Regions from separate parts of the Homo sapiens genome. Here all the other regions are linked to region 1. Evidence: fine-mapped expression QTL. A gene starts in region 1. Each other region holds a variant in brackets. All regions are shown on one strand. Distances are from middle to middle. Region 1 holds the start of LTBR (lymphotoxin beta receptor). Region 2 has its middle 21 kb from the start of LTBR. Region 3 overlaps TNFRSF1A (TNF receptor superfamily member 1A).

Region 1 (8,000 bases):
TCCCTTTATCCTCCTGGGGATGGCTGGGCATTATAGTAGCCATTTATTGGTAAGATTTGTCTTTCGTGATCCAGCTGGGAAACAAGAAACACTCTAAGTCTTTCAAACAGAAGAAGTTTAACACAGAGAACTAACTGGTACATGGGTGATGGAGGAGCTGAGAAGACAATGGGAGGCAGCTCAGAAAACAGCAGAGCGGGAAGCAGCTACCATCTCTAGGCCTGGAAAGATGGCAGGGTGATGTAGCATCAAAGACCAAGAAGCCTCCAGAGCCATTTGGCAGGAACTAAATAGTGTGGACTACTGGTAGGAGATGGGATTATGGAAGTGGGGAAGGAAGGAAGACAACCAACTGCAGGTGAAGCCAGAAAGCAGAGAGGAGAGAAATAGCCTGGCTGCTTCACTCCTCCCATCCCACCTCCATCCCACAGACCTGCAAGCAAACCAGTAGCTGACTGACACAATAAAGAGGCACACAGAGATAAAGTGATGGGGCCAGGATCAAAACCCAGATCTCAGGGCTCGTTCCTTAGGGTGTAGAGAGTCCATGAGGGCTGAAGCGCCAGCTTACGGCTGGCAGCAGAAAGAAACATACAGTCCAGCCAGCTGGGGTTAAAAGGGGTCTGGACATAGTGGTTACCTGTGAAGCAGGAAGCTTTGACTGGGAAGGGCATGTAGCAAACATTTGTAGTGCAAGGAACATTCTGGGGCCGGGTGCCGTGGCTCACGCCTGTAATCCCAGCACTTTGGGAGGCCAAGGCGGGTGGATCACAACATCAGGAGTTCAAGACCAGCCTGGTCAACATGGCGAAACCCCATCTCTACTAAAAATACAAAAATCAGCCAGGCATGGTGGCAGGCGCCCGTAATCCCAGCTACTCGGGAGGTTGAGGCAGAGAATTGTTTGAACCTGGGAGGCAGAGGTTGTAGTGAGCCGAGATTGCACCACTGCACTCCAGCCTGGGCGACAAAGCGAGACTCTGTATGGAAAGGAAAAGAGAAAAGAAGAGAAGAGAAGAGGTGTTCTGGACCAGTTGGGGGATATGCAAGAATACACAAAAGTGAAGACTCTCTGAGCTGTATCTGTAAGATCAGTGTACCTTACGGTTTCATTGTATTATATGTTACACCTCTATTAAAAGAAAGGGTCTCAGCAGCATAAGACAGGGTGGGGAAAAAAAGAAAAATAGAATAGAGAAAGAGTCCCTGTCTTTTAGGGTAAAATCCTGAAATATTTTCAAATGAAATGATATGATGTCTGGGATTTACTTCAAAATAATAATGAGGGATTTGAAGAGTGTGTGCGTTGGTGGGGGAGGGGGTATACAGAATAAATGAAACTGACAGTGAGTTGAAGCTGGGTAAGGAGTATATGGGAGACTCCCAATATTACTTTTTCTCTTTTGGTATATTATCTTGCATGTGGAATTTCCACAGTAAAAAGTAAAAAGAAGAGAGAGAAAAAAGGACCTAGGGTCGCTACACACACATTCCTTTACGCGTTTAAGAGCTCAGCAGGGACTCTCATCCCAGCCCCCAGCGCTAGGGCCCTGGAAGGCTCAGCAGCCCCGCGCAGTGCATGCTGTTCTGATACTTCTGCCCTTTCCAGCCATCTTTGGCCCATCTGTACGGTGAGCTGCCTGCACCAGGTGAGGGGAGAGAGCCTCACAGAGTGAAATGCCTACAGCCTAGGCAGGTCCTTTCCCCCTTTTGTGACCTCTCCTCCCCATGCACACTTCCCATCACCTGCACCTGTCCAGACATCAGACCTGAAGTTAGACAGACCAGTGTAAGGACGAGTGCTGAACAGAGTCCTTCAGGGAGGGGGATAGTGCCCAAGTGACCTATCTCAAGAGAGGTTAGCCCCTCATCCCAAGGGAGACATCCCTGAGCCACAAGGAGTTGGCAGGACTGCTGGAATGAGTTGGGACCTAGACATCAGGAGACCCAGATTGTAGCTGGCTCTGCGGTGGACTGGCTCTGTGATGTGGCCATCACTCATTTATTCCATAAATACCTATTGGGCACATGGTATGTGCCAGACTCTGCTAAGCATGGGGAACACAGACTTGAAGATTCAGCCTGGGCCATGGTGGCACTCACAGCCTGGTGGGAAGCAAACAAGACAGCCAGGTACAGAGGGCAGTCTTCACGGGGACTGTGCAACCTAGGGCAGAGGTTGCCTTCCAGAGCCTCAGTGAAGCCTCAAGGACAGGTGGGAGTTAGGAAGACGGAAACTTGGGGACCAGAGAACCACGTGTAAAAGGGGGCAGCTGCAAGTAACTCCACGGGTGGGTGGGGTGTTGGGTTGAGGGAGATGGGAGGATGAAACAGGGCAGGAACGAGACCAGGCCACCCTGGAATCCCGGTTCCCTTATGTATCACCCTTAGCCTCCCTCTCCATGCTTAAGGTGAGGGGGCTGGACTGCGTGGGCTCTCAGCTTTCTCCAGTTCTAAGGGGTTTGAAGGTTCATGGGCAAAGAAGCCAGAGCAGAGGGACTGAGTGCCCAGGTCCAGCCTGCTGGCCCCAGGACTCCCCTCCGCATATCCTCCCCCTCTCTTTGGGAGGGAGGTTCCCTGAGGACAGGGAGCAGGGCAAGCTGCACAGCTCTCAAGGGTCTCCTAGGTGACCTGTGCCCACTCCTGTGCGGATTGGGCTGGGTTGGTAGCGTGGGGGGCTGGCTGATTTGCTAGTCCCTTGTAATTTGTCTGAAAAACTCCCACAGTAGGGCAGGACAACGGGGGAGGAACCCGGGCATCTGCCAGCCGGTTCTCCTCGGTCTCAGAGCTGCTTCTGCGGCCTTGCAGTCCCCGCGCCCTGCCCTCTCCATGACTGCCCGTCCTGGGCCCCTCGCTTTCCAGATCCCGCACCCAGCTGTCCCTTGCGCTCTCTGGAACTCCCTCTGCTCTCCCTGCGAGGCTTGTCCAAGGGCTGACCCCGGGCCCGCCGCCCTTCCCTCGGCTGGGCCAGGGCTGTCCGCAGTCCGCTCTCCCGATCGGGCTTCCGAAGAAGGGAGGAGGCCGGTTCCGGCCCCGCGGCCCTCACGTGCTTTCCCGGCCGCCCCTCCCGCCCCGCATCGAGGCAGACAAGCCTGTTCCTCTTCCCTGGGCTGCGATTGCGACAGGCCGGCCTGGCTCCCAGCGCTCCCTGTCCCCGCCCCGCGGCCAGCTCGCTCCACTCCCACTTCCTGAGCTCCGCCATGGGAGCCCTGGAGGCCCGGCCTGGCCGCTCCCGGCCCTGGGGTGCACATCGGCCCTGAGTCCCGTCCCAGGCTCTGGGCTCGGGCAGCCGCCGCCACCGCTGCCCAGGACGTCGGGCCTCCTGCCTTCCTCCCAGGCCCCCACGTTGCTGGCCGCCTGGCCGAGTGGCCGCCATGCTCCTGCCTTGGGCCACCTCTGCCCCCGGCCTGGCCTGGGGGCCTCTGGTGCTGGGCCTCTTCGGGCTCCTGGCAGCATCGCAGCCCCAGGCGGTGAGGAAGGGGCCTGGTAGGAGTGGGCGAGGGTGGGCAAGAGGGATCTGGGCAGCCGTCGCTCCATTCCCTCTGCCCTCCCAAGCTGACCCCTGACTAATTCTTCTCTCCTCTTCTCCATCTCCCTTTGAAGGTGCCTCCATATGCGTCGGAGAACCAGACCTGCAGGGACCAGGAAAAGGAATACTATGAGCCCCAGCACCGCATCTGCTGCTCCCGCTGCCCGCCAGGTGAGAGGCAATGGCAGGACGAACCTGGGCCTCGGAAGTGGGTCACGGGGGCTCCAGCCCCCTCGCGGCCTCAGAGGGAAGGTGGGCACTGTCCCCCAGGAAAACTGGCTGCTGGAGACGAGCGTGGGAAACCCTGGACATCACGTGGAGGAGATGGGACTGGCCCTCCCCACTGGGCCTCCTCTTTCCTTACCTCACTGAGAGGGAGCCGGAGGGCCACTGGCAGGATGATGGGGGGCCAGAGAGACCGAGGGAAAGGCCAGGGTCACACTACAGGCAGCGGAGGTGAGGGTGGAGCCTCGTCTCCTGAGGCTCTACTGCTCCACTCACGTTCTAGGCACCTATGTCTCAGCTAAATGTAGCCGCATCCGGGACACAGTTTGTGCCACATGTGCCGAGAATTCCTACAACGAGCACTGGAACTACCTGACCATCTGCCAGCTGTGCCGCCCCTGTGACCCAGGTGAGTGGGGATGTGCCTGCGGGGGGGCTGGATCCCCTGGAGCTTGGCCCCTCCCTGAGCCCTCCCGTCTCCCCGCCAGTGATGGGCCTCGAGGAGATTGCCCCCTGCACAAGCAAACGGAAGACCCAGTGCCGCTGCCAGCCGGGAATGTTCTGTGCTGCCTGGGCCCTCGAGTGTACACACTGCGAGCTACTTTCTGACTGCCCGCCTGGCACTGAAGCCGAGCTCAAAGGTCAGAGGTCCCTGAGGGGCTGGATGTGAAAAGGAGGCTGGGTGCCAGGGATCTCAAGTGGGAGCAGGGAATATGGTACTGTGTCCACGGCGACCCCCCAGATCCTTGGCTTAAAATTCCTCTTCTCATTCCATGCAGAGGCTCACAGAAGGGTTCTGGAGGGACATGGAACTGGGACAGGTGCAGGGGACACAGGAGGTGGTTCTTCTCAGTACTGGGAAGCTTGGGCAAAATGGTAGGCAGTAGGCCGGGTGTGGTGGCCCACGCCTGTAATCCCAGCACTTTGGGAGGCCGAGGTGGGCGGATCACGAGGTCAGGAGATCGAGACCATCCTGGCTAACACAGTGAAACCCCGTCTCTACTAAAAATACAAAAAATTAGCCGGGCGTGGTGGTGGGCGCCTGTATCCCAGCTACTCGGGAGGCTGAGGCAGGAGAATGGCGTGAACTTGGGAGGCGGAGCTTGCAGTGAGCCGAGATCGCGCCACTGCACTCCAGCCTGGGCGACAGAGCAAGACTCCGTCTCAAAAAAAAAAAAAAAAAAGGCAGCAAAGCAGAGCTTGGGAAAGGTGAGAGCTACGCAATGGGGTGGATGGGCATCCTGAGGCTTAAAGGAAACTCACAGGCCGGCAAAGGGCCCCTCCCTTTTGCCCATTCACCCTGGCTGGCCTGCCTTTCTCTTGCCAGATGAAGTTGGGAAGGGTAACAACCACTGCGTCCCCTGCAAGGCCGGGCACTTCCAGAATACCTCCTCCCCCAGCGCCCGCTGCCAGCCCCACACCAGGTGAGTGCAGCCCCACCCAAGCTCCTTCCACCCTCTGAGAAGCCTCAGCTGCTAACAACCCCCAGCGCCTATCCTTGACACCACGGACTCGACTCACCACTTTCAGCCTCCCCGCCTGCCCAGTGGAGTCGGGACACTGGTGGGCCAGGGCGTGAAAAGGTCATCATCTTTTTTTCCTCTGCAGGTGTGAGAACCAAGGTCTGGTGGAGGCAGCTCCAGGCACTGCCCAGTCCGACACAACCTGCAAAAATCCATTAGAGCCACTGCCCCCAGAGATGTCAGGTGAGGGACCAGGGCTGAGGGACACGGGGGGGGCGCCTCTGAAAATGCCTTAATGCTCCACATCTTAAAAAAAATGGGGAAAAGATGAACACTTCCCTCCCAGAATTGGGCAAGAAGAAAGTTCCTTACAGAAAAAATTGGAGTATCTCTAGGCTAGTTTACACACACACACACACACACACACACACACACTTTTAAAATTATATATACTGTAATACTATGTCAAGGAACACATCCCACACTGAGATGTAATGATAACTACTATTGTCATCATTTTGGGCTTACCAACATTACACAATCCGTTTTTTTTTTTCACACAATCCATTAACTAGACCAAACACCTCTTTATTAGACTATATACTTTTATTATTAGACAGAAGATTCCCATTTGACTCTTTCTTGACTGTTTCCTGTGGACTGATTGGCTTGCTAGCCTAGTAGATGACTATTGTTTCTAATGACTGTAACATCACTAATTGGCAGAAGGTTCACTGTGTGTGTTGGGCACTCTGTAACCACTTTACATTTACTAACTCATTTAATCTTCTTAATGATGCTATGAAGTAGATTCTATTATCATCCTCATGGACTGAAGGAAGAAACCGAGGCTCAAAGAGGTTAAGTGATATACTCAAGATCACCCACACAGGTGGTCACTGGTGTTATTAGAACCTGTACTCAGGTTTTCTTACTCCAGAGCCCATGTCATAATGCATGCACTATAGAAAATTAGAGACTTCAGATAAGCAAAACTAAAAACTCACCCACAGAGCCACTACCTAGAATATCCACTCGTTACATTGTGGTATATATCCTCCCGGACATTTTCTATGCATGTTTATACATACTGGGTTTTGTTGTTGTTTACTAAAAGTGAAGTAATTTTAATATTTCGTAACCTGATTTTTTCATTCCACAATCTAAGTATTTTTCTGTGCCCTGTTAATTTTTAACTATGTATCAAATACAACTGGCATTTTAGAGCTGGAATTTTAGAGAGTATGTAAGCTAACCTCATCCTATATATGAAAAACTGATGCCCAAAGAAGTGAAATGACTTAAAAGTCACACAGCCGGGCAGGAAACCGTGGCCCAGACTCCCAGTCCAGTTTCTCCCCAGGCCTCCCATCCCATATTCCCTTAGGCTACAGATTTACATGAATGAGAAGAGGCAAAATGCCCAGCATAGAAATGCGGGAGTCCTCCCGCCCTTCCCCAGGCGTAGCTGACGGACACTGGAGGCTCCATGCTATTGCTGGCAGCACTGGTACCCAGAGAAAGAGAAATTACCCACTGCTACAGATCACAGCTGGAGAAGCCGAACTCCAGCCTCTCTTTCTCTTCCCCTCCTAGAACCTGCCCTGAGCAAGGGGGTGGAGAACTTGCAAGCCCTGCTCTACCAGGCGGCCACAGGCAGTTCCGAAGCAAGTTTCCCTACTCTCTCACCCCTGTAAACACCCCCACAGGTACAGGTACAGCAGGGCAACCCTAGCTCCTCTACAGCAGCCCCTCTGTACAATGGCTGAGGCCACAGAAATGTGGCTCTAGCCTGTGTCTGTTTACAACTCCAAGTCCCACCCTTCCCTACTGTCTCCCAATCCCACTTCCAGACCTTGAAAATCAACTGCCTAAGCTCCCATCCTGCACACACAAGCCTGCCCAATCCTGGTCTCTGAGCAGGAGGGCACCCACACCACCCCCAAACATGCCCATCCATGATACAGTCTCTCCTGGCTGCCAAGAGGTCCTCAAGTCCAACTTAGTTCCCCTTCTCTATAACCCAAGGGAAGTTTCTCTCATTCTGCCTTTAGGAGCTGCATTGTGTCTAGAAGGAAAAAAGCTGCTCCCTTTTCTCTGTCTGGGTTGCCCAGGGATCTGGAAAGCTCTTCCTTCTCCTCCTCCCCTCTGCCCTTCTTGGGGCTGTGATCACCCTCCTGTCTGCTGTCCTGGCAGGAACCATGCTGATGCTGGCCGTTCTGCTGCCACTGGCCTTCTTTCTGCTCCTTGCCACCGTCTTCTCCTGCATCTGGAAGAGCCACCCTTCTCTCTGCAGGAAACTGGGTAGGAAAGGGTTGGATGCAGTGGATGGTTGGCAATGGGAGCCGGAGGGAGGAATATTCAACTTCCCCGGTGCAACCCTCCACACCCTCAAGACTCCCAATGCCTACCCCCAACATAGACATCCTTATCTTCATCCAGCTGCTTATTCTGAGGCTGGAGATGAGAGTGACAGTGGCTTGTTCCTCTGGGCCCCCGGGTGGTCAAGTTGCTACACATTGTGCTGGGATGTGGAGGCTGAAAGGCTAGGTCTGAGGCCTGCCGGGGAGCCTACACCCATTTCATTCTCCATTGCAGGATCGCTGCTCAAGAGGCGTCCGCAGGTAATGGCGGGGGCTGAGAAGGCAGCAAGAAGGGGAAGAGGTGATGAGGGTACAAGGTGGAGCAGACAGGAAGAGAGTATGCAGGCTGACTCCACACTCATTCATTCATTCAACTGATGATTTACTGAACATGCCACGTACCAGGCACTGTCCTAGGCA
Region 2 (10,462 bases), 20 kb after region 1:
GACCAGATCAAAGGCTACTGCAATAGGGAGATGGAGAAAGGTGGAAGGTTGGAGATATGCCTTAGAGATAGAGTCAACAGGATTTATTGGTGGGCGTGGGTCCCAGCTCATATTTTATGGCCTTGGGTATTAGTTTGTTTAATCTGAGCCTCACATTCAAATTAACATTTGGTAAACATTAAGTGAGAATTTACTATGTACTAGTCATCTTAAGATACAACAGCCAACGAGACAGACCTGATACATAAACTTCTGGAGCTTGTAAAATAATCACAATTATTGCTTTTGTAGACAAGTGCTACAAAAGAGAAGCACAACATATAACCAGTGACCGATTCTAGGTCTGGAGATGAGGAAATTCCTCCCTGAGGAAATTTAAGATACAACCTGAAGAATAAATAAGGGCTAGCCAAATTGAAGGGGTGTTGGAGAGGAGAGCTCTGCTGGTGGGTTAAATGGTACGTGCAAAGGCCCTGTGATAGGAAGAATAGTTTGGCTGGAACTTGGGAATAGAGAGATGAAGCTAGAGAAGTAGGCGGGTAACACGTCATTCAGACTTACAGACTACAGCAATTTTGAACTTTACCCTAAGAGCAATAGGAAACCAGTAAAATTTTTTTCCAGTGTAGTAAAGTATATATATATAAATATATATGTTATATGTGTGTGTGTGTGTATATATACACACATACATATAAAATATGTGTATATAGTGTATATATACACACATATATATAAAATATGTGTGTGTGTGTGTGTGTGTGTGTGTGTATATATATTTTTTTTTTCACTCTGTTGCCCAGGCTGAAGTGCAGTGGCATAATCTCGGCTCACTGCAACCTCTGCCTCCCAGGTTCAAGAGATTCTCCTGTCTCAGCTTCCCTAGTAGCTGGGACTACAGGCGTGCACCACCACACCTGGCTAATTTTTGTATTATTAGTAGTGATGGGGTTTCACCATGTTGGCCAGGCTGGTCTCGAACTCCTGACCTCAAGTGATCCACCTGCCTTGGCCTCCCAAAGTACTTGGATTACAGTCATGAGCCACTTCACCCGGCCTGTAAAGTATATAAAGTATATTAATCTTAAGTGTATAGCCTGAAGAAGTGTTACATAGGTATATACCCATGTTACCATCACAGAAGATATGCAACATTTTACTTCCTTAGAAGATAACTTCATGCCACTTTCCACTCAGTCATGCTTACTGCTTGAGTTCCAGTTTATATTCTGGCAGACATATGACATCCCAGAGATATCCACTTTCCTATTTTGACTTATATCCCCATCAGTTAGTATTTGTTTGTTTGTTTGTTTTTAAGATGGAGTCTCCCTCTTGTCGCTCAGGCTGGAGTGCAGCGGTGCTATCCTGGCTCACTGCAACCTCTGCCTCCCAGGTTCAAGCGATTCTCCTGCCTCAGCCTCCCGAGTAGCTGGGATTACAGGCGCCCACTCACCTGGCTAATTTTTGTATTTTTAGTAGCGACGGGGTTTCGCCATGTTGGCCAAGCTGGCCTTGAACTCCTGGCCTCAAGCCATCTGCCCATTTCGGCCTCCCGAAGTGCTGGGATTACAGACATGAACCATCACGCCTGGCTCATTTGGGTTTTTTTTCTTAATGAGTTTTTAGTTTGGAAAAATTTTAGAATTACAGAAAAGTTGCAAAGATAGTACAGAGGGTTTTGGTATACCTTTCACCCAGCTGCCCTTAATGTTAATATCTCACATAGCCATGATACATTTGTCAAAACTAATTAAGAAATTAACATATCAACTAAACTACAGATTTTATTTAGATTTCACCAGTTTTTTTCCTTAAATCCTTTTTCTGTTCCAGAATCCAATCCAGGATACCACATTGCACTTAGTGATTATGATCCCTTAATATTTAGTCTTCTCTGATCTGTGACAGTTTCTGTCTTTCCTTATGCTGAGACAGGCAGATCGCTTAAGTCCACAAGCTCGAGACTAGCCTAGGCAACATGGCTAAACCCTGTCTCACAAAAAAAAATACAAAAATTAGCCTGGTGTGCTGATGTGTGCTTCTAGTCCCACCTACTTGAGGGGCTGAGGTGAAAGGATTTCTAGAGCCCGGGAGGTCGAGGCTGCAGTGAGATGTGATCCCACCCTGCACTCCAGCCTGGGAGACAGAGCGAGACTGTCTCACAAAGTGAAAAAAAAAAAGAAAAGAAAAAGGAAAAAGCAACTGCCAACCTGTCTCCAAAGTGACTATATCATTTTGCATTCCCAAAAGCAATGAATGAGAGTTCCTGTTGCACATCTTCACCCGCATTTGGTGATGGTGGCAGTGTTTTAGAAATTCTAGTAAGACCAGCATTTGGTGATGGTGGCAGTGTTTTAGAAATTCTAGTAAGACCAGCATTTGGTGGTTGGTGGCAGTTTTAGAAATTCTAGTAAGACCAGCATTTGGTGGTTGGTGGCAGTGTTTTAGAAATTCTAGTAGGACCAGCATTTGGTGATGGTGGCAGTGTTTTTTTTTATTTTTTATTTTTATTTATTTTATTTATTTATTTTTTTGAGACGGAGTCTTGCTCTGTCACCCAGGCTGGAGTGCAGTGGCGCGATCTCGGCTCACTGCAAGCTCCGCCTCCCGGGTTCACGCCATTCTCCTGCCTCAGCCTCCTGAGTAGCTGGGACTATAGGCGCCCATCACCACACCCAGCTAATTTTTTTTATTTTTAATAGAGGTGGGGTTTAACCATGTTAGCCAGGATGGTCTCAATCTCCTGACCTCGTGATGATGGTGGCAGTGTTTTAGAAATTCTGGTAAGACCAGTATTTGGTGGTTGGTGGCAGTGTTTTAGAAATTGTAGTAAGACCAGCATTTGGTGGTTGGTGGCAGTGTTTTAGAAATTGTAGCACGACTAGCATTTGGTGGTTGGTGGCAGTGTGTTAGAAATTCTAGTAAGACCAGCATTTGGTGGTTGGTGGCAGTGTTTTAGAAATTCTAGTAAGACCAGCATTTGGTGGTTGGTGGCAGTGTTTTAGAAATTGTAGTAGGTGAGCAGTGGTACCTCATTGTGGTTTTAATTTTCATTTCTCTAATGACAAATGCTGTTAACCAACTTTCATATGCTTATTTGCCATCCAGGTATTTTATTTTCTGAAGTGTCTCTTTAGATATTTTGCTTGTTATTAAATTGGATCATTCGGCAGTGTGCAGTGGCTCACGCCTATAATCTCAGCACTTTGGAAGCCCTAGGCGGCTGAATCGCTTGAGGTCAGGAGTTCGAGACCAGTGTGACCAACATGGCGAAACCCCATCTCTACTAAAAATACAAACATTAGGCCGGGCATGGTGGCTCACGCCTGTAATCCCAGCACTTTGGGAGGCCGAGGTGGGCGGATCATCTGAGGTCAGGAGTTCAAGACCAGCCTGACCAACATGGAGAAAGCCCGTCTCTACTAAAAATACAAAATTAACCGGGCATGGTGGAGCATGCTTGTAATCCCAGCTACTCGGGAGGCTGAGGCAGGAGAATCACTTTAACCGGGGAGGCACATGTTGTGGTGAGCCGAGATCGTGCCATTGCAATCCAGCCTTGGCAACAAGAGCAAAACTCCATCTCAAAAAAAAAAAAAAAAACGCAAAATACAAAAATTAGCCAGGTGTGGTGGCACGTGCCTGTAATAATCCCAGCTACTCAGGAGGCTGAGGCAGGAGAATCGCTTGAACACGGGAGGCAGAGGTTGCCGTAAGCCAAGATCACGCCACTGCACTCCAGCTTGGGTGACAGAGTGAGATTCTGTCTCAAAAAAAAAAAAAAAGAAAGAAAGAAAGAAAGAAAAAGAAGAATTATTTATTCTGGATAGAAGTCCTTTATCAGATACATTATTTGCAAATATTTTCTCCCAGGCTGTGGATTGTCTATTCATTTTCTCAACCTATCTTTCACAGAACAAAAGTTTTTATTTGTGATAAGGTACAATTCATCATTTTTTTCTTTATGAATTGTGTTTCCAGTACCAGAAAACTTATCACCAAACCTAAGGTTACACACACACAGGGTCTCCTGTGCTTTTTTCTAGATGTCTTACTTTCTACATTTAAGTTTATGAGCCATTTTTTGGTGTAAGTGTGAGGTACGTGTTGAGGTTTTTTGGTTTTGTTTTTACATATGAATGTCTAATTTTTCCAGCACTGTTTGTTGAAAAGACTGTTCTTTCACCACTGGATTGCCTTTGCATCTTTGTCAAAAATCAGTTGACATTATTTGTGTGGGTTTATTTCTGGTCTCTCTATTGGCTCTATTCACCTAAGTTGTCTACTCTTTCGCTAATACCACACTAATTGCTTTCTAATAAGTCTAATAAGTGGTAGAGTAATTTCTCCTACTATTTTTTTAGTTCCTTTTCATTTCTTTCCCTTTTCATATAAATTTTAGAATCAGTTTGTCAATTTCTATCAAAAAAAAGCTTCCTATGATTTTGATTGATAATGCATTGAATCTATAGATCAAACTGGGGAGAATTAACATATTTACAATATTGAATTTTCTAATCTATGAATACAGTATATCTTTCTATTTATTTATACCTTTTTTTTTTTTTTTTTGAGGCGAGGTATCACTCTGTCACCCAGACTAGAGTGCAGGCTAGAGTGCAGTGGTGCAATCATAGCTCACTGCAACCTTGAACTCCTGTGCTCAAGTGATCTTCCCACCTCAGTCTCCTAAGTAGCCGAGAGTACAGGCACATGCCACCATGCCTGAGTAATTTTTTATTTTGTGTAGAGACTGCGTCTTTCTGTGTCGTCCAAGCTGGTCTCGAACTTCTGGCCTCAAGTGATCCCCCTGCCTCAACCTCCCAAAGCACTGGGATTACAGGTGCACCCAGCCCACACCCAGCCCACACCCAGCCCCCACCCAGCCTACACCTAATCATTTATTTATATCTTTGTTGATTTCCTTTTTCTTTTCTTTTTTTTAATTTAGCCAGCTTTTTTTAAATTTTAACTTTTTTTTGGAGGGGAAAGGGAGTGGTCATGGACATACTGAAGTAGACACAAAAATATAGAGAATACTGCACTTCCCAGGGCTCGTCACACGTGCTTCAAAAATTACCAACAACTTGCCATTTTGTTTCATTATCTGCACCCACAATGGTGGATGAGGGAGTCTAAAAAATATCCCAAACATGAAATCTCAAAAATGTGATTTTAATCATGAATATTTTCACAAACATCCTAACAGATATGAATATAGAGAAAATACACTAAGATTTCACACCTAAGAAAATTTTAAAAATGACTTATAACATTATCCAATACCTAGCCCTTAAAGAAAGGAAATCCTGAATTGTCTGAAATATTTTTTATACTGATTTTGTCTGAATGAGGTCCCACCAGCTCCAAATATGGCATCTGATGGCTGTTCCTCTTAAATCTATTATAATCCATAAATTTACCCAAGTCTCCAAGTAGCCTGTCTGCTCTTTGAAAAAGGAATTGAGAGACCATAATCTGAGTGAAAATTCTCACTGATCATGGATTGTCATTGCTTTTAAACCATTCTTTGAAAAGTATTGCAGAAAAAAATGTTTTGTTTTCTTTTTTTTTGAGACAGAGTCTCACTCTGTCTCCCAGGCTGGAGTGCAATGGCGCAATCTCGGCTCACTGCATCCTCCACCTCCCAGATTCAAGCAATTCTCCTGCCCCAGCCTCCCGAGTAGCTGGGACTACAGGCGCGCTCCACCACGCCCTGCTAATTTTTGTATTTTTAGTAAAGACCGGGTTTCACCATGTTGGCCAGGCTGGTCTCAAACTCCTGACCTCCTGTGATCCGCCTGCCTCAGCCTGCCAAAGTGCTGGGATTACAGGCGTGAGCCAC[C/A]GCGCCCGGCCAAAGGTGTGTTTTTTATGAGAGTATTTTTAAAAACATTCAAATTGTCGGTCACAGCTCCTTGCCTATGCGCCTAAAAAGAGATAGCCCAAGACAGACGGGGGAAAGAAAAGGGGAGACAGAAACAAAAAGAAAACTGGCAAACAGAGGAGAAGTCCAAAAGCCCAACTCCCATAAGTCAAGACTTCCCACAGTTCTCTAAGTCAGCAAATGAATGTAATTTAAACTGCTTTAAACGTCATACAAAAATAAATCCTTTTTAGTAAATCGATAAACAGAGGCATCTCCGTGACGACTGGTGGCAGCATGTACTCCTCCTTTTCTAAAACAAGGAGTTCTAAAACAACTCAAGGCAGCAGAGAGCCCTGAGTTGCAAACATGAAAAGCATAACTTTCTCGAGTTGGCTGTTAAGTGTAATAGGAGAGGCACCACTCCACTCCTACCTCTCCTTTCTTTAACCAATGCATTTTGGCTACAGAAGAAATTATGCCTATTCTTAGTCACTATTAAGCACATATACAATGTCGAAAATTGAACAGTACTCCAAGAGGGTGCAAAATGACTACATGCCACTTTAACTGAGGCTTCCAAAAATTGAGATTTCTACTTATAAGGAATGTGGTACACATTAGAACTACTGAGTCCCATGGTCATCCATGCATTACCTTACCCTTTTTGTATAACTTATAGAAATGGGTCCAAAAAGACGTTGTGAGATATGAGGTATGAAGTGTTCAGTAAGTTCATTGATGGTCCTGCTAGCAATAGCATGTAAGTGAAGCATATCCAAATCTAGAGTAAGTGTTTATCTCAGTGAAGACAAATCCCTGCCCCATCCATGACAAAATACTTGCAAGAATACAAGAATACTTCCCCTGACATATGGGACACTTAGCAGCATCAGCATCCAGAGGTCAGCCTTGGTGAGCTAAGTCTATACTATAGAGCTCAAGTATAACCTCTACCACTGCCTGCCACCCTAGTCACATTTTTTTTTTTTTTTTTTGAGATAGAGTCTCACTCCGTCACCCAGGCTGGAGTGCAATGGCGTGATCTCAGCTCACTACAACCTCCACCTCCCAGGTTCAAGTGATTCTCCTGCCTCAGCCTCCCGAGTAGCTGGGATTGCAGTCACCCGCCACCAGGCCCGGCTAATATTTGTATTCTTAGTAGAGATGGGGTTTCACCATGTTGGCCAGGCTGGTCTCAAACTCCTGACCTCAGATGATCCACCCACCTCGGCCTCCCAAAGTGCTGGCATTATAGGCGTGAGCCACCACGCTGGCCACATTGTTTACAAATAAATCACTTGGGCAGTAAGTGGGGTGATACGAAGAGACTACATGACAGCCATATGGTTGATGTGTACCTGATTGCTGATAGCCTCCTCTGAAGAGTGGGAATTTCGATTAGCATTCACGTGGGACATTATTCTCATATTCTGGGACCGTTCTGGGAAATTCATCCACATCACTGTTTCCTGAAACTTCTTGTCAACACAACCTTCACTTTTGCCCACTTAAAATCTCTGTCTATCCACACCATTAGCCATGCACATTCAGTTTAGATCAGTGTCTTAGGTCACGCTCCTTCCAGAAAAAGTAAACAATGACATTCAATACTCCAAATACTGCTGAGTGGCAGCAATTCTTTCCCTATTGCCAATTATGGACATATTTGACTGGGGTAATATTATTACGGCTTCTAATACTACTGTTACAATTGGCTTCAGTAGTATTAGCCAACATATGTTGAATGCTTACTATGTACAGGACAGTGTTCTAAGCATACTAAAACTATTCGCTCATGAGAGGCACGATTACCTCTCCATTTTTAAAATGAGGGGAAAAGCCAGAGGAAAATAAGAAGAAAAAAGAAAAAAGCCAATTTGTCTGGAACTGGTTAGTAATGGGCTGAACTTGTAGCATTCAGTTTTTCTTTTCTTTCTTTCTCTTTTATTTATTTATTTATTTATTTATTTATTTATTTATTTCTTGAGACGGAATCTCCATCGCCCAGGCTGGAGTGCAGTGGTGCAGTCTTGGCTCACCGCCTCCTCCGCCTCCTGGGGTCAAGCAATTCTCTTGCTTCAGCCTCCCAAGTAGCTGGGATTACAGGCGTGTGCCAACACACTGGGCTAATTTTTGTATTTTTAGTAGAGACGGGGTTTCACCATGTTGGCCAGACTGGTCTTGAACTCCTGACCGCAAGTGATCCGCCCGCCTCGGCCTCCCAAAGTGCTGGGATTACAGGCAGGAGCCACCATGCCCGGCCCCATGTTGATTTCTTTCGTCAGTATTTTGTAGTTTTTAGCACACATATCTCCCACGTATTTTGTTATATTTATACCTAAAAACTTCATGGGGGCTGCTATTGTAAATGGTATTCTATAAACTACAGTACGTTGTTTCTTTGTATAGATCCAAGATTTTGATTATATTTCTTCTTCTTCTTTCTTTTTTGAGACGAAGTTTCACTCTGTTCAACCCAGGCTGACACAATCTCGGCTCCCTGCGACCTCCGCCTCCCGGGTTCAAGCAATTCTCCTGCCTCAGCCACTTGAGTAGCTGGGACTACAGGCGCCCACCACCACGCCCAGATAATTTTTGTGTTTTTAGTAGAGACAGGGTTTCACCATGTTGGCCAGGCTGGTCTCAAACTCCTGACCTCAAGTGATCACCCGCCTTGGCCCCCCAAAGTGCTGGGATTACAGGCGTGAGCCACCACACCCAGCCTCTTCTTCTTAGAGAACTTGCTTTGACATTTATTATAAAGTAGGTCTGCTGGCAATCAACTTCCTCAGTTTCTGTTTGTCTGATAAACTTTTAATTTTGGCCTGGTGTAGTTGCTAATGCTTGTAATCCCAGCATTTTGGGAGGCTGAGGTGGGAGGATCACTGGAGTCCAGGAGTTTCAGACCATCCTGGGAAACGTAGTGAGACCCCGTCTCTAAAAAAATAAAAATAAAAATAGAAAACTCTTAATTTGGGCCAGGCACAGTGGCTCACGCCTGTAATCCTAGCACTTTGGGAGGCCAAGGTTGGTGGATCACCTGAAGTCAGGAGTTTGAGACTAGCCTGGCCAACATGGCGAAAACCCGTCTCTACTAAAAATACAAAAATTAGCTGGGTATGATGGCAGGCACCTAGCTGAGGCAGGAGAATCACTTGAACCCGGGAGGCGGAGGTTGCAGTGAGCCAAGATCATGCCACTGCACTCCAGCCTGAGTGATGGAGCGAGACTCCATCTCAAAAAAAAAAAAAAAAAAGATATTACTCCATTTCATTTTGCTTTTATTGTTTCTGACTAGCAGTCTGCTGTAATTCTTATCCTCGCTCCTCGGTAAGATATTATGTTTTTTCCCCCTTGGCTGACTTCCAGATTTTCTTTCTCTTTGGTTTTCAGCAGTTTTAATATGATATGCCTAGATGCATGGGTTTGGTGAGGGGCTGTGTTGTTTTGGTATTTATCCTGCTTGGTGTTCTCTGAGCTTCCTTGATCTGTGCTTTTCTGTCTGTTACTAATTTTGGATAATTCTAAGCCATTATCTCTTCAAATGTTTCTCCTGTCTTATTCTTTTTGTTCGTTTGTTTGTTTGTTTAACTAAGTCTGATTAGACAAATCCTGTCCAAGTCTTTCTTCTCCTTCTGGAATTCCAATTATGGGCATGTTAACTCATTTGGTATTCTTGGATGGTGTCTTCTTTCTTTCTTTTTTGTTGTTGTTCTGTTTTGTTTTTTACCCACTCTTTTTTTGCACTTCAGTTTGGGTAATTCCTCTTTATTTTTTTGCAATTTTATAACTTTATTTGATGTATTTGACTATCAGCGATTAGTTCTCATCCACATTGACTGTCTGTAGATTTTTGAAAGTGGTAGCAAATACATAGGTAACCAAAGTATAGAGCTTATTTGTGAATCTTCATCCTCATTACGTTTTCTGGACAGCCGCACATGGATTCGGTGTCGGACATTCCTTATTCCTTTGGCCCAGACAGCTTTGTTGAGCCTGGTATCAATGCGCACATCTGGAGTTTCCATCTCCTTCATGGCAAATTTCCGAATCTCTTTGAGTGCCCGAGGGGCACGCTTCTTGAAGCCTACTCCACAAATGCGCTTGTGAATGTTGATGGTGTATTCTCGGGTCACCACTTCGTTGATGGCAGAACGGCCCTTTTTCTTCTCGCCACCCTTCTTTGTGGGAGCCATTCTGCCATGTCCAAGTTGGAAAGGGAGTTTGGGAAATTTCTATTGACCTCTACACCCAAGGTCACTGATTCTTTTCTCAGCTATACTGAGTCTACTGATGAACCAGTCAAAGGTGTTCTTCATTTCTGTCACCACGATTTTATTTCAAGCATTTCCATTTTATTCTTATGGTTTCCTCTGCTGAATTTATCCATCTTCTTTTGGCATGTTGTCTACCTTTTCCATTAAATCCTTTAACATAATCATGTTACTTTAAATTCCATGTCTGATGTCATATCTGAGTCTGGTTCTGATTTTTTTTTTTTGTCTTTTTAGATTGTGTCTTTTTCTTTTTTTTGAAACGGAGTATTGCTCTGTCACCCAGGTTGGAGTGCAGTGGCATGATCTCTGTTCATTG
Region 3 (10,462 bases), 51 kb before region 1:
CCTGAGCCCCACAGAAAGTTGTGCATAAAAATGACTGCCCTGGCTGGGCATGGCTGCCTGTAATCCCAGCACTTTGGGAGGCTGAGGTGGGAGGATCCCTTGAGCCCAGGAGTTCCAGACCAGCCTGGGCAATATAGGGAAACCCTGTCTTTACAAAAAAAAATTTTAAAAATTACCCAGGTGTGGTGGTGTGCCTGTGTCCGGAGGCTGAGGCGGGAGGACCCCATGAGCCCAAGGGTTGGAGGCTGCAGTGAGCGCACTCCAGCTTGGGCAACAGATGACGGTGTTCAGAACAAGAACCTGCTACTCCTCTGTCACTTGGCGTGATGGTGATGGGCTACCTGGCCCTAGTGCAGGGCTTTTCCCATCTCACCCCTCAGGATCTGGGCCTCTGCCCCCACCTCCCATCCCGACAGACCACTGTCTCCAAGAGCAGAGCTTTAACTTCAGAATTTTAGTGTATGTACAAAAGTCCACAGCTCCAGCTGAAGGCCCCATTGTTCCGTGCTCGCCCCTGCCTTAGGACAGTTCAGCTTGCTATGTGCTTGTCCAGGCAGAGGGCACAGGAGTGCCAAGTTTCTATTAGTGTAACATGATTGATTTAAAAACAAAACAAAACAAAACAAAAACAAAAAAAACTGCTTATGCACTGTGAAAAAGGCTCAGGGACGAACCAGGGGCCCCCGAGCAGCCTTGCTGGTGAGGACACCCAAAACGGGCATGAGGCATAGCGTCCCTCATCCTCGCAAACCACCCACTCAGGCTCTTGAGCCCACGGCGCACCTCTCTCCGCGCGCACAGCGCTGACTGTCGGCGGCGCGCAGGCAGCTGAGAAAAGCTATGTACATCGAGGGGTTAGCACCAAGTAGGCGGCTGCTAGCTCCTGCTTGCCCCTGCAGGACCCCTCCTTTCCAGAAAAAAGTGGGGTTGGAAGGCGATCTCGCAGGACGGTCCTTAGAGCTGCCCGCAGGGGCGCAGCCTCATCTGAGAAGACTGGGCGCGGGCGGGAGGGCGGCGGGGCCGCAAAGCGCCTCCTCGATGTCCTCCAGGCAGCCCAGCAGGTCCATGTCGCGGAGCACGCGTCCCAGCAGCTCCAGCGTGGCCTCGCGCCGCGGCGTGCGCCGCCTCCAGGTCGCCAGCATGCTGTATTGCGCCTCGCGCAGGCAGCGCCCGTTCTGCAGCTCCAGCCGATCGATCTCGTGGTCGCTCAGCCCTAGGCGCCGCACGAATTCCTTCCAGCGCAACGGGGGCACGTTCTCCACCACGGCGTACAGCGTCGCGGGGTCATCAGCTGCGGGGACGCGGGCCGGTGAGCCTCGGGCGGCAACCCCAGGCCCCGCCCCGCATCCCGCGCCCTCCGCCTCTCGTGGTCCCCTCTGGGAGCGCCTCCCGCGCTCCCCCGGCCCTCCCCCAGCCTCCTCGTCTCCAGCCGCGGGAGAAACTCACTGTCTAGGCTCTGTGGCTTGTGGGCGCTGTCCTCCCACTTCTGAAGGGGGTTGGGGATGGGGTCGGAGGCGAGGGCTGTCGCAAGGATGGGGTCAGCCCCCTGATAGGGTGGTGCCACCTCTCTGCGGGGAGCCGCAAAGTTGGGACAGTCACCGGGGGTATAGGTGGAGCTGGAGGTGAAGGTGGAACTGGGCACGGGACTGAAGCCCAGGGTGGGGGTGAAGCCTGGAGTGGGACTGAAGCTTGGGTTTGGGGCCAGGGGCTTAGTAGTAGTTCCTTCAAGCTCCCCCTGAAAGAGAGAAGGTGGCGCAGCATTAGTGCGGCAGCGAAAACCAGCCCCGGCCCTCTTTATTCTACGTGGGGGTTGGGACTTAGAGGGAATGAGGCGAGCCCCCGGAAAGTGAAGGATGATTCCAGGGGATCTGAGCATTAGGCAATTATAAGGAATGGTCAGGGACATTTGGGAGTAACTCTCTCATTTCATCTCACCTCTTTTTCAGGTGTCGATTTCCCACAAACTGAGGAAAAAGAAAGAAAGCATCATAAATTTCACTTCCTCTCTCAGCCCTGGCACCCTGGACTCAGCTGGCAGTGGGGACTTGTGGTGACATGCCTCAGGGCCTATGTGGCCCCAGGGACGAGAGAGCTACTGATGCAGCTCGACATCTCCCCAGCCATCCAGGGCCACCTTCTGCCCAGAGTCCCCAGCGGTATGAACTGAGGGGACACTCCTCACCTCCCTCCACACATGTCCATCGCACCCACCCATGTCCTCCCTCACCCCCACCAGCTCCCTCTCCCTCCCAAAGCCCCCACTCACCAATGGAGTAGAGCTTGGACTTCCACCGTTGGTAGCGATACATTAAACCAATGAAGAGGAGGGATAAAAGGCAAAGACCAAAGAAAATGACCAGGGGCAACAGCACTGTGGTGCCTGCAGACAAAGCAGGTGTTGGTCAGAGGAGCGGGCAGAGGGGGGCCGCAGGGATAGATGGATGGGTGGGATGGATGGACGGGTGGGGGCAAGAAGAGGGAGAGGGCAGGTGAGCATGGGCACCAGGTCACTTCTCCTCACCTGAGTCCTCAGTGCCCTTAACATTCTCAATCTGGGGTAGGCACAACTTCGTGCACTCCAGGCTTTTCTTACAGCTAAAAGAAGAGACGGCACTGGTGAACAGAGGCCCTACCATTGGAGGAACACAGAAAAACAACCACACAGATTGTTGGACATCCTTTCTTTACAAATATTTTTGCTGTCTCTTGATATAATTTGTTTTGGGAACTGATGCAGAAGAATGAAACACAGTTAATCATAGAATCATTTAATTTTAGAATTGGCAGGGATCTTGAAAAGGCTGTGTAGAAAATGTGAAAAGCAGTCAGGGTCAGGGTGTAAATTCCAGTTCATTCCTTGGCTAGCAGTGTGAATCTAGGCAAGCCATTAACCCCCAAGCCTCGGTTTCCTCATCACCACAGGGATCGCCCACCTCTCAGGATTGAGGATTAAGCAAAATCATTATGCCTCATTTAATAAGTGCTTGAGAAGGTAGCCAGCTAGCTGTTATGGGATTGTTGTTTCATCACTGTTTTGCTGATAAGAATCCTTTGGCAAAGAGAGGTTAAAGGGCTTTTTCTTAAATGACACTGCTAGTTACAGTACCTGACTTCGGGGAGTCGGGGTCAAACATGCATGTGAAAAATTTAAAAACACATGTTACTGGGGCAGCCAGAGAGCACCCTGTAGAACTAGCAGATCTTCCATGTTGGGAGTTGTCACTGGACAGTGTGGAGTGATGGGAACTCTATGGGGTGGTGCTGGAAGGAACTTGAGAGAGTGAGTTCCCAGCAGGAAGCTGAAAGCAGGGAGAGGCACTTTAGCCCACCACTCAAGCTCATGGTGAGAACCACATAGAATGGTATAAAAGTGATTTCAAGAAGAGATGAAGCCGGCTGGGTGCAGTGGCTCACGGCTGTAATCCCAGCACTTTGGGAGGCAGAGGCAGGTGGATCACCAGGAGTTTGAGACCAGCCTGACCAAGATGGTGAAACCCCATCTCTACTAAAAATACAAAAATTAGCCAGGCATGGTGGCACGTGCCTGTAATCCCAGCTACTTGGGAGGCTGAAGCAGGAGAATTGCTTGAATCTGGGAGGCAGAGGTTGCAGTGAGCCGAGATCGCGCCACTGCATTCCAGCCTGGGCGACAGAGCAGGACTCTGTGTCAAAAAAAAAAAAAAAAAAAAAAAAGAAGATTAATGGAAAATAAATAGTTTTGTGTCAGACGTGTTGTAGGTTTTGTTTGTTTCTTTGTTTTTGGTTCTCACAAATTCACCAAATGAATGTCATTATGCTTACTTTAAATATAAGAAATCTAAGGCCCAGGCCAGGCGTGGTGGCTCATGCCCGTAATCCTAGCACTTTGGGAGGCTGAGGCGGAAGATCGCTTGAGCCCAGGAGTCCGAGGCCAGCCTGGGCAATATAGTAGGACCCTGTCTCTACAAAAAGTAAAACATTAGCTGGGTGTAGTGGTGTGTGCCTCTAATCCCAGCTACTCAGGAGGCTAAGGCAAGAGGATGGCTTGAGCCCTGGAGGTGGAGGCTGAGCCACGGTTGCACCACTGCACTCCAGCCTGGGTGACAGAGTGAAACCCTGTCTCAAAAAAAAAAAAAAAAAAAAAACACCAAAAGAAAAGTCAGGCTCAGAGATGTTAAGAAACTTGCCCAACGTCACATAGCCAGTAAGTGGCTATGCTGGGGTTCAAACTCTGAGAGCCCTCAGAGTTTATTCTTTGCAAGTGAGTGACAAGAACAGCCTCTGTGGAGCCAGGAGTAAGGAGGCCTGGACAGTGACTAATGAGGAAATACCATATTGCATCAAACCTAAGACGCCATCAAGAATAAAAGGCACTTTTCTTTACATTACTACCCAGACGCAAACAGAGCTGCCAATTCAACCATGATGAGTCACCAGTTATAGGAGGTTTGATTTCAGAGCTATAAGAGTGTATGTCCTAGAACCAATGAGCTATCGTAGATCCAAGAATCTACATATCTGAGTTGGAAGGGCTGCCAGCCCTTGGGGCATGATCTTCCATCCTCAAAGACTTCTTCAGATTTGAAGAGCAAGGGGAAGGACTGCCTGGTGTCTTAACGAAGTGTCTCCTACTCAGCCAGTAGGACCCTGAGCACTCTGGGGCATCCTGGCATCTGTTGCCCAGCTAATGGTTCCCACCAGTCACCCGTCCCAACCCATGCCACCATCCAGTGCCCAGCAGCTCTCAGAGATACTCACTTACTACAGGAGACACACTCGTTTTCTCTTAGAAAGAAACCTGCATGGCAGGTGCACACGGTGTTCTGTTTCTCCTGGCCTGTAGGGAGAAGTGCGGCACAGCTAAAGGAG[A/G]AGCGCCTGCACCCCCACCCCACAGGACAGAGGAAGTGACGAGGGACAGGGTGGGGGCGGCCAGAGAGGAGTTGGTTGTCAGACCCACAGAATACAGGAGGGGGAAGGAAAGGAAGTGCCACCGCATGGGGAAGGGGCCAACCCCTGGGGTGGGGAGAGGGCTTGGCCTCAGGAGAGCTGCGCTCACAGGAGAGGTGCACGGTCCCATTGAGGCAGAGGCTGCAATTGAAGCACTGGAAAAGGTTTTCACTCCAATAATGCCGGTACTGGTTCTTCCTGCAGCCACACACGGTGTCCCGGTCCACTGTGCAAGAAGAGATCTCCACCTGACCCATTTCTGGTGAGGGGAGAAGATGGGGTATGAGTCCTGCATCCTCCTGTCCCTGCATCCCCTTCCTGACATACCCCTAAGTGTGTGTCTCTGTAATACACACTCACATCCATGCAGTGTCCCACCAAAACACACACCTTCCTGCCCACACCCACCAGCCTGCACATAGACAGGCACCCACACACCACTCAAGACCCGCCTGACTCTCCTGCCTGTGCACACTCACCCTTTCGGCATTTGGAGCAGCTGAGGCAGTGTCTGAGGTGGTTTTCTGAAGCGGTGAAGGAGCCGCTCTCACACTCCCTGCAGTCCGTATCCTGCCCCGGGCCTGGACAGTCATTGTACAAGTAGGTTCCTGTGAATGGGGCCGCAGAGTTAGGCTGCGGGTGAGAACACAAGGAAGGAGCCCCATGCTAGGGACAACAGCCAGGGCCGATTCCCTGAAGTCTCTAGGAGAGGAGGGAGGGAGAAAATCCCAGCCCAGGAGAGACAGCAAAGTTAGGGAAGAACAACTGGAAGAAGCAGAGAAAGAAGCAGCACCCCAGACCTGAGGGCATTCACCGTTTCCACTTGCCCCTACCTTTGTGGCACTTGGTACAGCAAATCGAATTATTTTGAGGGTGGATATATTTTCCTTGGGGACACACACTATCTCTCTTCTCCCTGTCCCCTAGGTGAGGGACCAGTCCAATAACCCCTGAGGGGTATATTCCCACCAACAGCTCCAGGAGCACCTGGGGAAGAATCAGATAGAGGAGACACCATCAAGAGAGGGAGGGATGGGAAGCTTAGGGGTAGCAGATCTAAAACTTCCCTGGCTCAAGTCCTTCCTCAGTGAAACATTCCGCCCAGGCCACGCCACTCACTAAGTTTAGAGTTCTTCCTTGAAACTTAGACAGTTGGGGCCATACAATCTGATGCTTAATTGTTCTCTAGTTGTCCTGTGTGTTCATTTTTGTTCCCTCAACTCAAAGCTAGTAGGCCCCAGATCTAAGCTGTATTTTTTTTTTTTTAGGCAGGATCTTGCTCTGTTGTCCAGGCTGGAGTGCAGTGATGCAATCACTGCACCCTCCACCACCCACGCTCAAGCAGTCCTCCCACCTTAGCCTCCTGAATAGCTGGGACTACGGCCGTGAACCACCATGCCCAGCTAATTTTTTTTTATTTTTAGTAGAGGCAGGGTCTTGTTACGTTGCTCAGACTGGTCTCAAAATCCTGGGCTCAAGTGATCCTCCCACCTTGGCTTCCCAAAGTGCTAGGATTACAGGCGTGAGCCCAGCCCTGTATTTTATCCTTACTGTGAAATCCCCCACAGCAGCTAACAGTGCTGGACACAGGGCAGATGTTGAAAGGATGTGTTTTTGATTGGGAATTGGCAGGTTACTTCAGTGATGGCCCCTTCTTCCAACAAGCAGCCCTAAAGATTGGGGCGGTGTTTCTCCATCTGGGTGCTGGGTTCACCGTGTGATCGCTTTGCGAACATTCACAGAGGTAAACAATGAGGATCTATGCACATCCCAGGAATATGTTACACCATGAAAAGCTTTCTGAAAAAGTCAGCTGGCGGTGGGGGCGAGTGATGTTCCCGTGAGCACCACTCCTGGGGAGTGGACAGAAGAAGGAAGTTTATTTACATGTTTGTATCAAACCTCAATCTGCCTCCGCCCTCACATTCCCTGGCCCATCCCCTCCACCTCAAAATTTACAAACACCCGGGGTTGGCAAGGACAAATGGGGAGGAGAGTAAAAGGGAAAGGTTGGGGATCCTGCATGGGTAGACGGGGGACAAAGTTGAGACGGGGGCAGGAGTGGGCAAAGGTGTGCAGGACATAGGCAAATAGAGCTGGCCAAGGCTAGCGACCCAGCTTGGATGACTGTCAGGTCAGAGCTGAGGGCGTGCTGGGGAGTCCTGGAGCCCCCTGCACACCATGGCATTCTGGAAGGTGTGCTTTGCAGTCTCAGGCCAACCCCACAGCAGCTAAATGGCTTGTCCTGTTCCGGCATCAGTGCCAGGAAAGCAAAGCCAGGAGTGAATATTTAGCTCTAACTTGGACTTTGATCTCTGCCAGCTTCATTTCTGGTTTTCCCTGGGCTTCATTTTTTTTTTCTACTATAAGAGACACTTTGTGTAAAGATAAGAGGGTGTCCTCAATGTCTGTTAAACACTGGGGAGCAACTGACTCACCAGATCACAGAAACCCTAGGGCAGGGAAGGAGGGTCAGGCAGCCCACAGCCACCCAGCCTCACCAACTCCACATTTCGGAGCAGGAGGCCAGTCACCCTGAGTCAGCCACGGGGAGACGCTGCAGCTGTAAGCTGTGCAGGCCCGGAAGTTCAAGCCTCAGCCGCAAACAGGGGAAGCCACACACAGAAACACAACAGCAGCCCCCGCAGGTGGAGGCGTGTGCCCCTGCTCAGAGGACAACAACCTTCCCCTGCCCGCACCAGCCAACACCGTGCCACCTCTGCTGAGAACAGGACTGGGGCTTCCAGGGCAACAGGAAGGGTTTGGGGTGGTGATGGGAAGAACTTCCCAGTCCTGAAAGTGTGGTTCCTTTCCCCGAAGAAGCCACTGGAGCACCTAAGGTCACTGGTACTTTGAATCCCATCCAGGGGGCTTGAGGCAGAGTCATGATGAAGAACTGGGGGACGCCAGCCCCAGACAGCCTTAAAGGGAGCTTTTCAGGGACCTCTGGCCAGTGGGGGATGAGCCTCCCTGGAGGGAGGGAGGGAGAGAGGCTTTCTCAGGCCACGTGTTCCCTTCTCTTTCCAGCACTCTGGGGGTTAAGTCAGATCCGGGAAAGGGAAATCTTTTCCCAGCAACTCCGCCCCAGTGACTCAGGCCAGAGGGAGGGAGACCTAGGGAGGGGAGAGGGAACTAGCAGCTTCCCCAGCTCCTCAAGGGTCATGAGTCAGCAGAAAGGCAGAAGGCACCAGCCTGCATGCAAGTGGGACTCCATCTAATCCCTTCTTCCTATGGCCAAGTCCCTCCTTCCCATCCCCACTCAACCCCCATCCATCCCCTCCCCATGCAAAGAGCCAGGCCACAGACCCTTGTCCCACTTGGCCCACATGTTCCGGGAAATGCCTCCCTCTCCCCATTCCATCCCGAAGGGAAGTCTCCCTCGACCCTGGCTTCCGCCCATCAGGTCTGTGCCCTCCCTTCCCTGAGGGCCACTTGGCTCCTCCTAGCCCCTCAGCGGCCTTTAGCTGAGGCCCCGCCCCAGCTCCTCCTCCCAGTTCAACAAGTCTCCAACAGCTAAACCCATTCCGTGAGCTCTCACTCCATCCCCCAACACTCCCCAGTCCCAGCAGGAAGCAAGCCAAGGCTGCCCTCCCACCCTGGGTTCACCGCATTCCCACAGCCTGGCTGGTTCTGACCAGTTGTGCTGGGTTTGGGGGCCTCCCTGGGGTCCCCAGACAATCCTTAGGAAACAAGGCCAGTTCTGAGTCTCCACAGACCCTCCCCAAGCCCACTGGCAATACAGGAAAGCCTCCAGAGCCCTGAACACCCACTTCCAGGAACGAGGGAGCAGGCAAGAAGGGATGCCGGATGGAAGAACCAGCCCTGCTTCCTAGGCTTCCCCTGGCCCCCAGAATGCTCCAGGTCAGCCCTCTCTGATCCCTAGGAGCCAGGGCCCTCAGACTCCCCACCACTGGGCACCACTGCTGGCACCAGCTGGCCCCAGTAAGCCCAGTCCTCAGCAGTTGCGTAAATGAAGCAAAACAGGAGAAACAGGAGGTGAGCTCTTTAGGCCCAGACTCCAGCCTGGAGCAGAAGGGCAGGAAGCTGGGGTGCCTGTGGAGAGACAGTTGAGGGGGTGGCCCAACACCCCTCCAACTCCCCCACAATTTCCGCCAGAGGAGGCTTTAAAGTGTGACTTCCTGTGCTGGGGCTGCAGAGTGGGGAGGCGACGCTGAGATCGGCCTTGTGGTCTGACCCCGATCCAGCCACCTTGCAGGGACCCAATTAGTCTTCCTTTCCCCCTCATTCATGTGTCTGTTCATTTAATGTCAAGGTGTTGGGGGAGGTCGTGGCAGCTTCTCCTCCAAGGGCCCAGTTGAGATCCCATCTCCCTCCCGTGAAGCCACCATTGACGATGTCTGTTTCCTCCACCCCGGCTCCTTAGACCCATAGTCCCTGTGAACTCGAAGCACGTGAACTGACCCTATCTACTTTTGGCTCTTATCATAATATGGTTATGTTGGGTGACAGATATGATCTCCCCAAAGTGACCACGAACCTTATAAGATGAGAGATCAAAAAATGTCTTGGTCAGAAAGTGTCTTATCCTCCCCTGGTGTCCTCTCAGCTCCCAGAACCAGACCTCCAGACTGGGAGCAGATAAATATGGATCAACTGATCGATCTAATGATACATCTGTCTTCCACTCTAGTAGAAGCCAGTGATTCCCAAAGAGGGAGGTGAGGAGACAGCACCCCTGGTAGGAATATATTTATCTCCGGGGGAGAGTTTTCAGACCATCCCCCCACCTCCCCACACACAAGCACACACACCCTTACTTAAGAGTCTGGTGTGCTCCTCTCCTTTTGAGAACCACTGATGAGTGAACACAGTGTGTCTGAATGATACAAAGGCAGAAAGAAGTTGCAGCACCTCTCCTCCAGCTTGGTAGGCGCACCCTTCCACATGACCATTTCCCTGACCCTTAACATGCCCCAGACGGAATTCATCCATCTCCTCACCTAGACAAATGACACACCATCGACTTCCCGGACGAATGCTGAGAACTTGCCACGCTCTCTCCCCAGGGCCCCATCCCTATCCCTGCCGCCATCCCATGTGTCAGTTCATCTTGCGAGGCCTCCCCCTGTGATCTCTCGGTCCTCTCCGCATTCCTGGGTTGCCTCACACCTGGGTTATTGCAAGTGTCTTCTAGCCTCTCTCCTGCTCCCATCCGTCCTACACACTTTTTAAATCTTCATTCAGGCTTTAACTTGCACGCACAAGTGTGTGAACCTTCCTCTCCATCTCCAGGGCCTGGCTCCAAACAGCATTTCCATGGTCATGGAAATGATCTGAAGACTTCCACAGATGCCTCACTACTTTTTTTTTTTTTTTTTTGAAACAGGGTCTCACTCTGTCACCCAGGGTGAAGTGCAGTGGCACAATCATAGCTCACTGCAACCTTCACCACCAGGACGGAATGTAGTGGTGTGGTCAGGGCTCACTACAACCTCCACCTCCTGGGCCCAAGCCGTCCTCCCGAGCTCAGTCTCCCGAATAGCTGGGATGACAAGCACGCCCCACCATGCCCCGC

What was found. PIP is the estimated chance that this variant, and not a neighbour inherited with it, causes the effect.
Region 2: its variant is fine-mapped to the expression of LTBR in whole blood (INTERVAL, PIP 0.99).
Region 3: its variant is fine-mapped to the expression of LTBR in whole blood (TOPMed, PIP above 0.99).

The regions. Positions count from the first base shown.
Region 1 is chr12:6,380,985-6,388,984 of GRCh38, forward strand. LTBR (lymphotoxin beta receptor) reads left to right here and starts at 3,178. Exons shown (of 10, transcript NM_002342.3): 1 at 3,178-3,470; 2 at 3,604-3,700; 3 at 4,038-4,163; 4 at 4,243-4,395; 5 at 5,082-5,178; 6 at 5,363-5,460; 7 at 7,414-7,521; 8 at 7,816-7,841. The coding sequence starts at 3,375. RefSeq lists an enhancer at 2,231-3,096.
Region 2 is chr12:6,399,949-6,410,410 of GRCh38, forward strand. It overlaps the pseudogene RPL31P10. Among named protein-coding and RNA genes, the nearest start is that of LTBR, 21 kb to the left of the region's middle. The variant C/A (reference allele first, on the strand shown) is at 5,849.
Region 3 is chr12:6,328,332-6,338,793 of GRCh38, forward strand. It overlaps TNFRSF1A (TNF receptor superfamily member 1A), which reads right to left. Exons shown (of 10, transcript NM_001065.4): 2 at 5,760-5,913; 3 at 5,406-5,534; 4 at 5,036-5,185; 5 at 4,738-4,816; 6 at 2,522-2,595; 7 at 2,267-2,380; 8 at 1,936-1,964; 9 at 1,447-1,735; 10 at 440-1,291. The coding sequence ends at 981. PLEKHG6 (pleckstrin homology and RhoGEF domain containing G6) reads left to right here. Exons shown (of 16, transcript NM_001384598.1): 16 at 1-175. Among named protein-coding and RNA genes, the nearest start is that of TNFRSF1A, 8.5 kb to the right of the region's middle. RefSeq lists enhancers at 1,907-2,036, 5,991-6,861, 8,604-9,473, 8,790-8,879, 8,872-9,166 and 1 more. The variant A/G (reference allele first, on the strand shown) is at 4,849.